Linked DNA regions of Homo sapiens: region 1 is linked to region 2. Evidence: fine-mapped expression QTL. Tissue or cell type: esophagus muscle. Region 2 holds a variant in brackets; the other region holds the start of a gene. All regions are shown on one strand. Distances are from middle to middle.

Region 1 (5,153 bases), 86 kb after region 2:
TTTTTTTTTGGAGACGGAATCCCACTCTGTTGCCAGGCAGGAGTACTGTGGCGTGATCTCAGCTCACTGCAACCTCCGCCTTCCTGGTTCAAGTGATTCTTCTGCCTCAGCCTCCCGAGTAGCTGGGATTACAGGCACGCGCCATCACGCCAGGCTAATTTTTGTATTTTTAGTAGAGATGGGGTTTCACCATGCTGGCCAGGCTGGTCTTGATCTCCTGACCTCGTGATCCACCCGCCTCGGCCTCCCAAAGTGCTGGGATTACAGGCATGGGCCACTGTGCCTAGCCATAGCTTATTATTTTATCTTGATCTCCCCAGTGCCTAGCACAAAGCCTGACATCTACTACACGTGGCATGAACTGATCATCATGTAGGCCAAAGTAGTCTGACTTCTTTCTTTATAGGACTTTTTTGTTGTTGTTTTTTAAGTATTCTCGGGAGTTAGGAGGCTTAGGGCTGTGTCTTTGAAATGTAGATAGTGTTCTTCTTCATTTGAACTTGCAGATCAACACCCATCCTAGCCTATGTAGGATATTTAGGAAGGAGTACTGAGTGCATTCTCCTCATCAGGGCAGGAAAGCAGCCTTGTGGAAAAAAGAAAATCATGAGGGCAAATTCATGTTTTGTTTCTCTTTGTGACATTATGTCAAATGTACTCTTTTTGTCTCACAGTGAGATGATCATGTTCTCAGCCCTATTAAGCCCAATGCCCCTTTTTTATTATAAATATTTTGAAATGCCCCCTTTTCCGTCCCAAAATGGAATCATAGAAATTACAACCTACCTACACGTATAATCTAGAAAATCAATGTGAGCCCTAACAATATCATAGAGAAATAAGAATAATTTATAACAAAATAATTTAAATATTTGAGCACAGCCACACCAGAAGACAAAATGAAACAGACACTTGCACCCATGCCTAGAATCACTACGAAGGTGACATTCTAACAGACTGTTGTGTCAGTGACTTAAATGTTTGTTACACTGGTTGATGACAGCAATGTAAATTTCTCAAATGGTACACATTTTAGAATGTTAATTTTCAAACAAATTTTCTCAATTTACCCTGGAAAATATAGTTTATATTAAAATTTGTGCAAAATATACTTGCTGTTTACAAGTGAAAGTGAGTCAGGTTCTAGGCCCTGATAGTTGCTCTTTACCTACCCTGGTGTCTGAGGAACACTCCAGAAGTGTATGGAATGCAGGACAGGTTTTGATTGTTCTCGCCAGGGCATTGCTCGCCATCCAGCATCCCTGGCTGCCATCACTCAGTGCCACTGTGACAACCCAAAGTGTCCCCACAGATTCCTCCAACTCTACTTAGGGAGTGCTGTCTCCTGTGGAGAATCATTGCTCTGAGATTCCACCAAAAGATATAAATCAGACCAAAGGAAAAGCCAAAGTTTTTAAGCATGGTATCTAGACAAGGCAACTCACATGACAATAAGACACAAAACTTTCTCACTCAAGATAGCAGGTTTGGTTTGGTTTGATTTTTAACTCAAGTTTGATAGTGTGACCAACATCATGTTAGGCCTTGTGAGAGACAGAAGTTGGGAAGAAACACCCCCCACCCCCCTCCACACACACACGGACACACACGGTCCCTGCCCTCAAGGACTTCCAGTCTAGTAAGTAAGTGGCAACAGCTACAGTACAATCCAGGTCAGCGAAAAATGGAGCCTAAAACAGAGCAAAGAAAGACGCAGGTACGTATAAGAAGTGGGGCCCCTGGGCCTCACAGTGGGCACTTTACCCCGGGTTGGATTTCATGGAGGCCCCTCCGGCCGTGTTGTCCGCAGGGTACGATTTTATGAAGGCTCTGAGTTGGTGGCTGACTCTGGCGTCACCATAGACACCACAATGCGTGGAGGCCGACTTGGCGTTTTCTGCTTCTCTCAAGAAAACATCATCTGGTCCAACCTCAAGTATCGCTGCAATGGTAATGTGCATTCTCGTTACTGTTCAACATTGTTACTAGAATTAGTCAAACACTGCCACCTTATTTTTATACCGCACTTCCCCCCCAAAAGCCCAACGCTCATACCACATAGTCATTAAAACCTGATAGTCCCTGTGTACCAGAAGTAAAAAGCAGATCACATTTATCCTATTTTATCCATGTGGAAATTAAGACCCATAGAATTTAACTGCATGGTTTAGGGTTTGGGGTTCAGTGAGAAATCCAGTCAGATTTAATTTACAGGAAGCCTTTATTTTCATGTGGTTAAAACATAATCACAGATGCAAAATCCATTCTGCCTGCTGATTTTCTGCACGGCCGGGAAGGAGCACTCCTGGGCTTTAAGCCAACGGTTTGCAAAGCAGCCTGCAGGAGAAAATGGCGGCGAGGGCCTGCGGGGCGTCCTGGGCGGGCTAACAGCGCCCCCTACAGGACGCCTGAGCCGCGGGCGGGGGTCCGGGGTCCGGGGTGGAAGGAGCCTCGCTAACCTCCCTGTGCCCATTCCTATTGCAGACACCATCCCTGAGGACTTCCAAGAGTTTCAAACCCAGAATTTCGACCGCTTCGATAATTAAACCAAGGAAGCAATCTGTAACTGCTTTTCGGAACACTAAAACCATATATATTTTAACTTCAATTTTCTTTAGCTTTTACCAACCCAAATATATCAAAACGTTTTATGTGAATGTGGCAATAAAGGAGAAGAGATCATTTTTAAAAACCGTGTTGCTCAGACATTGCTCTCACGTGGCTCAGGCTTTGAGGTGCCCGTTCTCGGAGGGATCCCTGTTAACTTGCAGGGTGGTAGTTTCTTCTCAGACCCGGTGGCCGATAAGATGAGCCTATGCGTGAATCACAAGGCCCAGGCCAGAGGTCTCAGCTGGGGTCCCCCCAGTTTGCTCCATACAAAACGCCTAACCGTTCCATGCTCACCTTGGCAGCCTCCTTATTTCGGGTAAGGGGTCTCAGAAACACGTGTTTGGGGTGGCACCTTCCCTAGGGAGGCGTTTTTCTGACCTAGTCCTGGGACAGATTTGCCCAATTCTTTCTGATGCTGTCATCCCATCCCACACCTTCCACAGACTTCTATTCTGGCCCCTTCAACGTAATTCTTAAGCTTATTTATATATTTGGCTCCCCCTAGTGGACTGTAAGCATATTGACAATAAAGGATCATGTCATTACAATCAATATCCCCACAGTACCTGGAATGTAGTAAATAGCCAGTAAATGTTTACTGAATTAATAAACGAAGAATGAATGAATGAATGCCTCTTAAAGGACAGTAGAGTGTACATGATCATAAAAGTCCTCCTCAACTCAAAAAGTCACAACATATCCTCTATTTGTGGTACCAGTAGCTGGATGTACAGCACAGAAACTTGCCTAATTTGTACACTAGCCTTTCTTGTATTTCAATTGTAAATCAAGATCCAAGCAAATTTTTATAAATTCTCTAGAAATTTTGTTTCAAAGAATATTGCTGTGCGGTTATATATTTTCTTATTCCAGAATTCCTAGAGATATATTAAATCATGTATGAAGAAAAAAACACCACAGTTTTATCATGACTTTAACAGTGAGAAAATACAATGGTGCATGCATGAGATCTGGAGGATTTCTGGACATCCTCCTCTCATGTACAGCCTGGAGATGTGTGTGGCCTTGTAATCCAGGACATCTGATCTCCTACATCAAAAACTCCAATGGGGCCAGGTGTGGTGGCACTTGCCTGTGGTCCCAAGCACTTTGGGAGGCCAAGGCAGGCAGATCACTTGAGGCCAGGAGTTCAAGACCAGCCTGGCCAACGTGGCGAAACCCATCTCTACTAAAAATACAAAAATTAGCCAGGTGTGGTGCCACTTGCCTATAGTCCCAGCTATTTGGGAGGTTGAAGTGGGAGAATCACTTGAGCTGGGGAGGCAGAGGCTGCAGTGAGCAGAGATTGCACCACTGTACTCCAGCCTGGGCAATGAGAGTGAGGCTGGTGAAAGGAGGCAGCAACCCACACCATGCCCACCCCTGGGGCAGCCTCCCTGTTGTCGGCTGTGCAAGCCCAAGAACGCAGTATGTCCACAGGAAACAGACTCTCTTGGTTAAATCTTTTGTGTCTATAACTATTTTAGAAACCATGGGCCCACAGGAGATCCAGAACATAATTCCATCCCTTAGGGAGCTTATTACATTTTTGGGAAGACAAAACTTGTTATTTATGCAAAACAAGAAACAAAGACGCATGTAGAACCAGCAGTGTGCTGAAGCCAACTCCTACCAGCTCATAAGAGCCAACTATTCAAGTTTTAGGAATATTGTGAGCCAGTTAAACGGTTGGTAGTTTGAAATTGGCCATGGTGGGAGTATTTACACAGAAACTGGCAAACACTACAAATCAGGGCTCCAGAGAACTGGTTGTTAAATATTTATCAGCACACAAGTGATTATTCTACCTTGTCCTATTCCTAGTTGGCCCTCCTTATATTTTTGAAGCTGATGTAGAAAACTTGAGGCTTTCAGAAAATTTCTTGCATAAGAAATGAAGTAAGAAAAGTGAAAATGGGTGGGGTGCTATGGCTCACACCTGTAATCCTAGCACTTTGGGAGGCCTAGGTGGGAGGATCGCTTGAGGTCAGGAGTTTGGGACCAGTCTGGCCAACATGGTAAAACCCCATCTCTACTAAAAATACAAAAATTAGGCCAGGTGCAGTGGCTCCTGCCTATACTCCCAGCTCCTCAGGTGGCTGAAGCACAAGAATCTCTTGAACCCGGGAGGCGGAGGTTGCAGTGAGCTGAGATCGTGCCACTGCACTCCAGCCTGGGCGACAGAGCAAGACGTGTCTCCAAAAACAAAAACAAAAAAAAAAAAAAGTGAAAATCAGGAAGCACTTGAGAGAAGCTAGCCAGTTGCAGACTGACGGGATGAGCTAGCAGGTGTGGTATGCTCTCCCCCAGGTAACTCCCTGGGCTTCTTGGATACTTGTTATACTCAACCTTAGCACAATGACTCAAATTCCTATTACAGTTCCATTAGGTTAGTAAGAGCCTCATTTGAATCTTACACCTCTAGGACTGAGTGGCCATCAGTCTCTCACCAACTAGTATGAATTCATTCCAATGCCCATTCACCTCCTGACTTTTCATGGAGATCGAGAAGACTGAGGAGCTGGGCATGGTGGTGTGCACCT
Region 2 (5,153 bases):
ACTTGGGAGGCTGAGGCGGGAGGATGGCTTGAGCCCAGGAGGAGAAGATTGCAGTGAGCCGTGATTGTGCAAAAACTTATGTTCAAGCTTTTAGAGGCACAGTTGATGAAACAAGGCCCACATATTTGAACTAACTAGAGACTATTAGGAAGTACCATTTTGTCAAGAAGACAAGTCTAGTATGGTTTTAGACAAAGGCTTGAATGTACTGCAATGCTTGGCAAAGGCCTAATGAAAGAAGATGATAGCTGATCTCGAAGGGTGGGTACGTTGCATTTAGATTGGCACAGAGTAAGGCATTGCATATGGGCTGTGCTATATAAGTGAAGGCATAGAAACAGGACTGACTATGGCAAGGAATCTGAAGATGAGTAAACGAATGCTGGGTTTGGTTATAAGCTGGAGACTGCTCAGGGAGAGTATTGGTTGACTAACTTGAGAACCAGAATTGGAAGGCATGGGAATTTATAGTTTTGAGAAAGTAAAGACAAGTAAAAGTCCAAATACAATATTAGTGGATTTACATAGTCAAGGATGGGAGGTAGACAGCTATTGTTACATGGACATTATAAGAAGAAGCATTTTATAAACCCATAAACTATATTAAATAAAGTAAAAGTGTGGTGGAAAATGCTGCTGAATATTATTGGAGGAAGGTCACTTGGCACCCTTCCGCTGAGCATTTTTGATAGAGGAGGTTGTTAGAAATCCAGTGGCAAGGGATTACTGGAGAAAAGGGTATAAACGATAAGGACAGGTCTAAGAGCATGAGGAATATGACTGATAAAGGAAGAAGAGAAATGGGACAGGACTGAAAGACTCAAAGTTTTTGAAAGAGACGACATGGTGAATCTACACACATATGAGGACAAAATTGGCTATTATGAGTAAAAGTCTGAAGATGCTGGAGAGAAGAAGGATGGGATCCTAGAAATTGCCCTAAGAGTTGAGGCTGAGATCCGGAGCTTGAGCAGCGGGGCTGGCAGGCATTGAAAATGAGAGACATGCTCTCTTTCTGACACTGGAGGAAGTTTCAAGGGGAACTATGGGATGCTGAGTAGATAAATCAGTTACCTTCAAATTTCCCTATTACATTAGAAAAAAAATAAAAGTGCCTGAGAGAAAGAGATTGGGGCTTTAAAAAGACAGCTGGGCACAGTGGCTCACACCTGTAATCCCAGAATTTTGGGAGGCCAAGGCAGGCAGACCACTTGAGGATCACTTGAGGTCAGGAGTTCCAGACCAGCCTGGCCAACATGGTAAAACACAATCTCTACTAAAAAAAAAAAAAAATTAGCTGGATGTGGTGGCGCACACCTGTAATCCCAGCTACTCAGGAGGCTGAGGCAAGACAGTCGCTTGAACCCAGGTGGCAGAGGTTGCAGTGAGCTAAGATCGTACCACTGCACTCCAGCCTGGGCAACAGAGTGACTCTGTCACACATACACACAAAAAAAAAGGCGGAATAATTTAGAGACTATATCAGGGGTTAATAAAAAGTAAATGGGAGCATTGCTGACAGTCGTAAAGGTCAAATGTAAATTAGTATTAAGGCGATAAATCAAGGGAGAGCCATGGGCAGGCTAATGATTAGGTGCCTCTTTAAACAGATATTCTTTAAATATTCATTCAGTTTTTTTAAATGGAAATAAAGTTGGCCCCAGAATGTAACAAGATCAATTTATATTTTACCAATTATTTTAAAAGTTTTATTTGGAAATCCGGATTTTAGTACCACTTAAAAGTTGGTCCTGAGGATGATAGAAGAGGGATGGTACCCTAGGAGTTGCCCCAGGAATTGAAAGAAGATGAACTCTGTAGCTTCAGCATGATGGGGGCTCAGCCATCCTGACGTCTAGCTAAATTTGTACAGTTGTGTGGCTTCCTCTAAAGATACTTTGTTACCCAGAAGCATAAAAAGCCAAGTTCATGTATTTGGTAGCTATGTGAAGGTGATCAGGCAGTAATATATACTGATAGGGATTCATTTTGCTCCTCCAGCATAGTAAACCTGCTGTCTTTTGTATGAAAAAGAATTAAATGAAACCAAAATGAGAATATTATAATCTGACATTGTGCTGAATTTATGTTGAGGAAATAGGACAATTATACTTAAAAAATGAGGTTTGTAAAGGGTCCTAGGTGGAAATAAGGACCTTATAATGGAAGTAAATAATGGAAATAACGGAAGCCTTATTTCTATACTTCACTCAAAGTGGTAAAACCTAATATACCAATAGACTGTGATGTTAAATATGTATATTATAATACTGAGAGTAGCCACTAAGAGAACTATACAAGTGATATACTCAAAAATACTAAATAAATCAAAATAGTTTTTTTTTTTTTTTTTAAGTCCAAGTAACCCACAAGAAAGCAAGGGGCCAGCAGGGGAGTGATAGGTTGGAAGTGGGGAGGTAGTCAGAGAGATGAGAAGTTGAGAATAAACAGAAAACAGGTAACAAAATGGCAGGCTTAAATCCTAAAATACCAAGACTTATTCTAAATGTAAAGTTGATCTCAATACACCAATTAAAAGACAGAAATTGGCAGAGTGGATAAAAAACCTAAGCTAAATGTATGCTGTCCCTCAGAAACTTCCTTCAAACATGACATTGGTAGATGGAACCTAAAAGGATGGAAAAGTTATACCATGCAAACATTGATCAGGAAAAAAAAAGTAGTATGCGTGTATGTGTGTGTGTGTGTGT[A/G]TATATGAAGGACATTACATAATGATAAATGGATCAGTCCACAAGACAACATATTAATCCCAAATGTGTGCACCAAACAACAGTGCTTCAAAATACATGAAGCAAAAACTGATAGAGGTGAAAGAAGAAATAGACAAATCCATAATTTTAACTATAACATAAGCTATAGTTATACCCGACACTCAGCAATTGATAGAACTACTGGACAAAAAATAAGCAAAGATATAGATGAATTAAACAACAGGATCTAATAGACATTTATGGAATGCCCCACCCAGTGACAGCAGAACATACATTATTTTTAAGAGCCTATATAACATTCACCAAAGTAGGCTATTATGAGTCATAAAGCAAACCTCAACAAAAGTTTTTAATGAAATAATGCAGAATATATTACTTGACTGTGCTGGAATTAAACTAGAAGTCAATAACAGAAAGATAACAGTAAAATCTCCAAAAACTTGGAAATTAACATACTTCTACGTAATCAGTGGGTCAGAGAGGAAGTGTCAACAGAAAAGAAATATATACAATTGATAATAAAAATACAACATTTCCTATTAAGAGAATGACAAGAAGCCACAGACTGGGAGAAAAAAATTTGCAAAACATATATCTGTTAAAGGACTTGGGTCCAAAACATACAAATAACTCTTAAAACTTACAACAAGAAAACAACCCAATCATACTGGATTAGGATAGACTGCAAATCCAGTGATTGGTAACTGATATGGTTTGGATTTGTGTCCCTGCCCAAATCACATGTCGAATTGTAATCCCCACTGTTGGAGGAGGGGCCTAATGGGAGGTGATTGGATCAAGGAGGGATTCCACCCTTACTGTTCTCATAATAATGAGTTCTCATGAGTCCTGGTTGTTTGAACATGTGTCGCATCTCCCCTTTCTCTCTCTTCCTCCTGCTCCAGCTGTGTGGGACGTGCCTGCTTTGCCTTCGCCTTCCACCATGATCGTAAGTTTTCTGAGACCCCCTCAGCCATGTTTCCTGTAGAGCCTGTGGAGTTGTGAGTCAATTAAACCTCTTTTCTTCATAAATTACCCAGTTTCAGGTATTCCTTTGTAGCAATGTGATAACAGCCTAATAAAGGTGACCTTATAAGGAAAAAGAGACATAGCAACACAGACGTAGACCCAGACCCAAAATTGGTGAAATCTGAATGAACTCTGTGGTTTGTACCAATGTCATTTTCATGATTTTAATATCGTACAATAGTTACAGTAGATGTTACAATTGGGGGAAACATCCCTGTACATTTATTTTACAACTTCCTGTGAGTCTATACTTAATTGAAATTAGATGTTTTTAAAAAGAATTAAAGGTAATGTAATGGCATGTGATGCAAAAAATGGGCACATGAAATATCCAGAGCATTCAACCAGATGGCAGCTAAAAATGTGGACCATCTGCCTTCATGGAACTTTGTATTTCGGACATCTTTTCATCAGCAAGACCATGCCATTTAAATGTTTTCCCAGAAGTGATGCTGAGCTATGTTCAGTGGCCACATGGCTCTCTAGAATCAGTAACAATGAATAAGGATGGACAGCCGGGAGTAAAGATGCTCTCCAGGAAATCATCTTAGGACTGGGTAACCCCACTACACCCCTGGGATTCAGTCAACCTTGGAAATCACTGGAATCCTTAATATAAACTACAAACAATCCAGCATTCTCTGTTTGGCTAAAGATACATTTCAAAGTTTTCTTTAAGAAAAAAAAGCAATATATTAAAACGCTTTGTTTGAATATATGTATATTTGCTGGATCAATAGTTCTTACAGCCATATTACTAAAATTAAGGGCTATGGCATAATAAGAATTACTATAATTCTAAACCCATTAACAGTTTATAGCTTATCCATTTCTTATACTATCCCTGTGAGGAATAATTATATCAAGCTTTATTTGTTTACACCAAACAGGAAAAAATAGATGTATTTATTCATATTTCCTCCATTGGATTAGCCAAGTCTACTAGGGAGCAAAAATAGTAAATTCACATGCCTCCTTTTTTTATGGTAGTAATTGAAAAAGTTATGGATATGATCCCATTTTCTGAAATGTTTAAAAATGAGTGTATAAAATGATCTTATTTTCAGAACTTAAGTCATTATGTGTATTGTTTATAGGGAGTTATATTACTTTTCCAGATTAATAGGCTGCCATCGATAATGAAGAACAAATAAATCCTGCCTTGTGAAATGCTGCCATTTTAAAATTTGCCTGAGGAAAGATTCATTATTGGAGGATTCTTTGCTTTATACATAAATCGCTTTAAACAGCAAAGTCTCCTAGCATTTAAAAATAGTCCATATATAAAAATTCTCTCAATCCACAATCATGTCAGTTGTGTAAAATGAGATATATCTGGTCTGATACCTCAGTTTATGGAAATTCCTCTTGAAATGTCAGTCATTACTCACA

What was found. PIP is the estimated chance that this variant, and not a neighbour inherited with it, causes the effect.
Region 1: THBS4-AS1 starts here. The variant in region 2 is fine-mapped to the expression of THBS4-AS1 in esophagus muscle (GTEx, PIP 0.95).

Annotation. Positions count from the first base shown.
Region 1 is chr5:80,080,596-80,085,748 of GRCh38, forward strand. It overlaps THBS4-AS1 (THBS4 antisense RNA 1), which reads right to left and starts at 3,070. Exons shown (of 8, transcript NR_109930.1): 1 at 2,905-3,070; 2 at 1,765-1,942. THBS4 (thrombospondin 4) reads left to right here. Exons shown (of 22, transcript NM_003248.6): 21 at 1,811-1,950; 22 at 2,485-2,692. The coding sequence ends at 2,546. RefSeq lists silencers at 2,379-2,468, 3,584-3,798.
Region 2 is chr5:79,994,695-79,999,847 of GRCh38, forward strand. It overlaps a transcript of THBS4 not described here. Among named protein-coding and RNA genes, the nearest start is that of MTX3, 6.0 kb to the left of the region's middle. The variant A/G (reference allele first, on the strand shown) is at 2,712.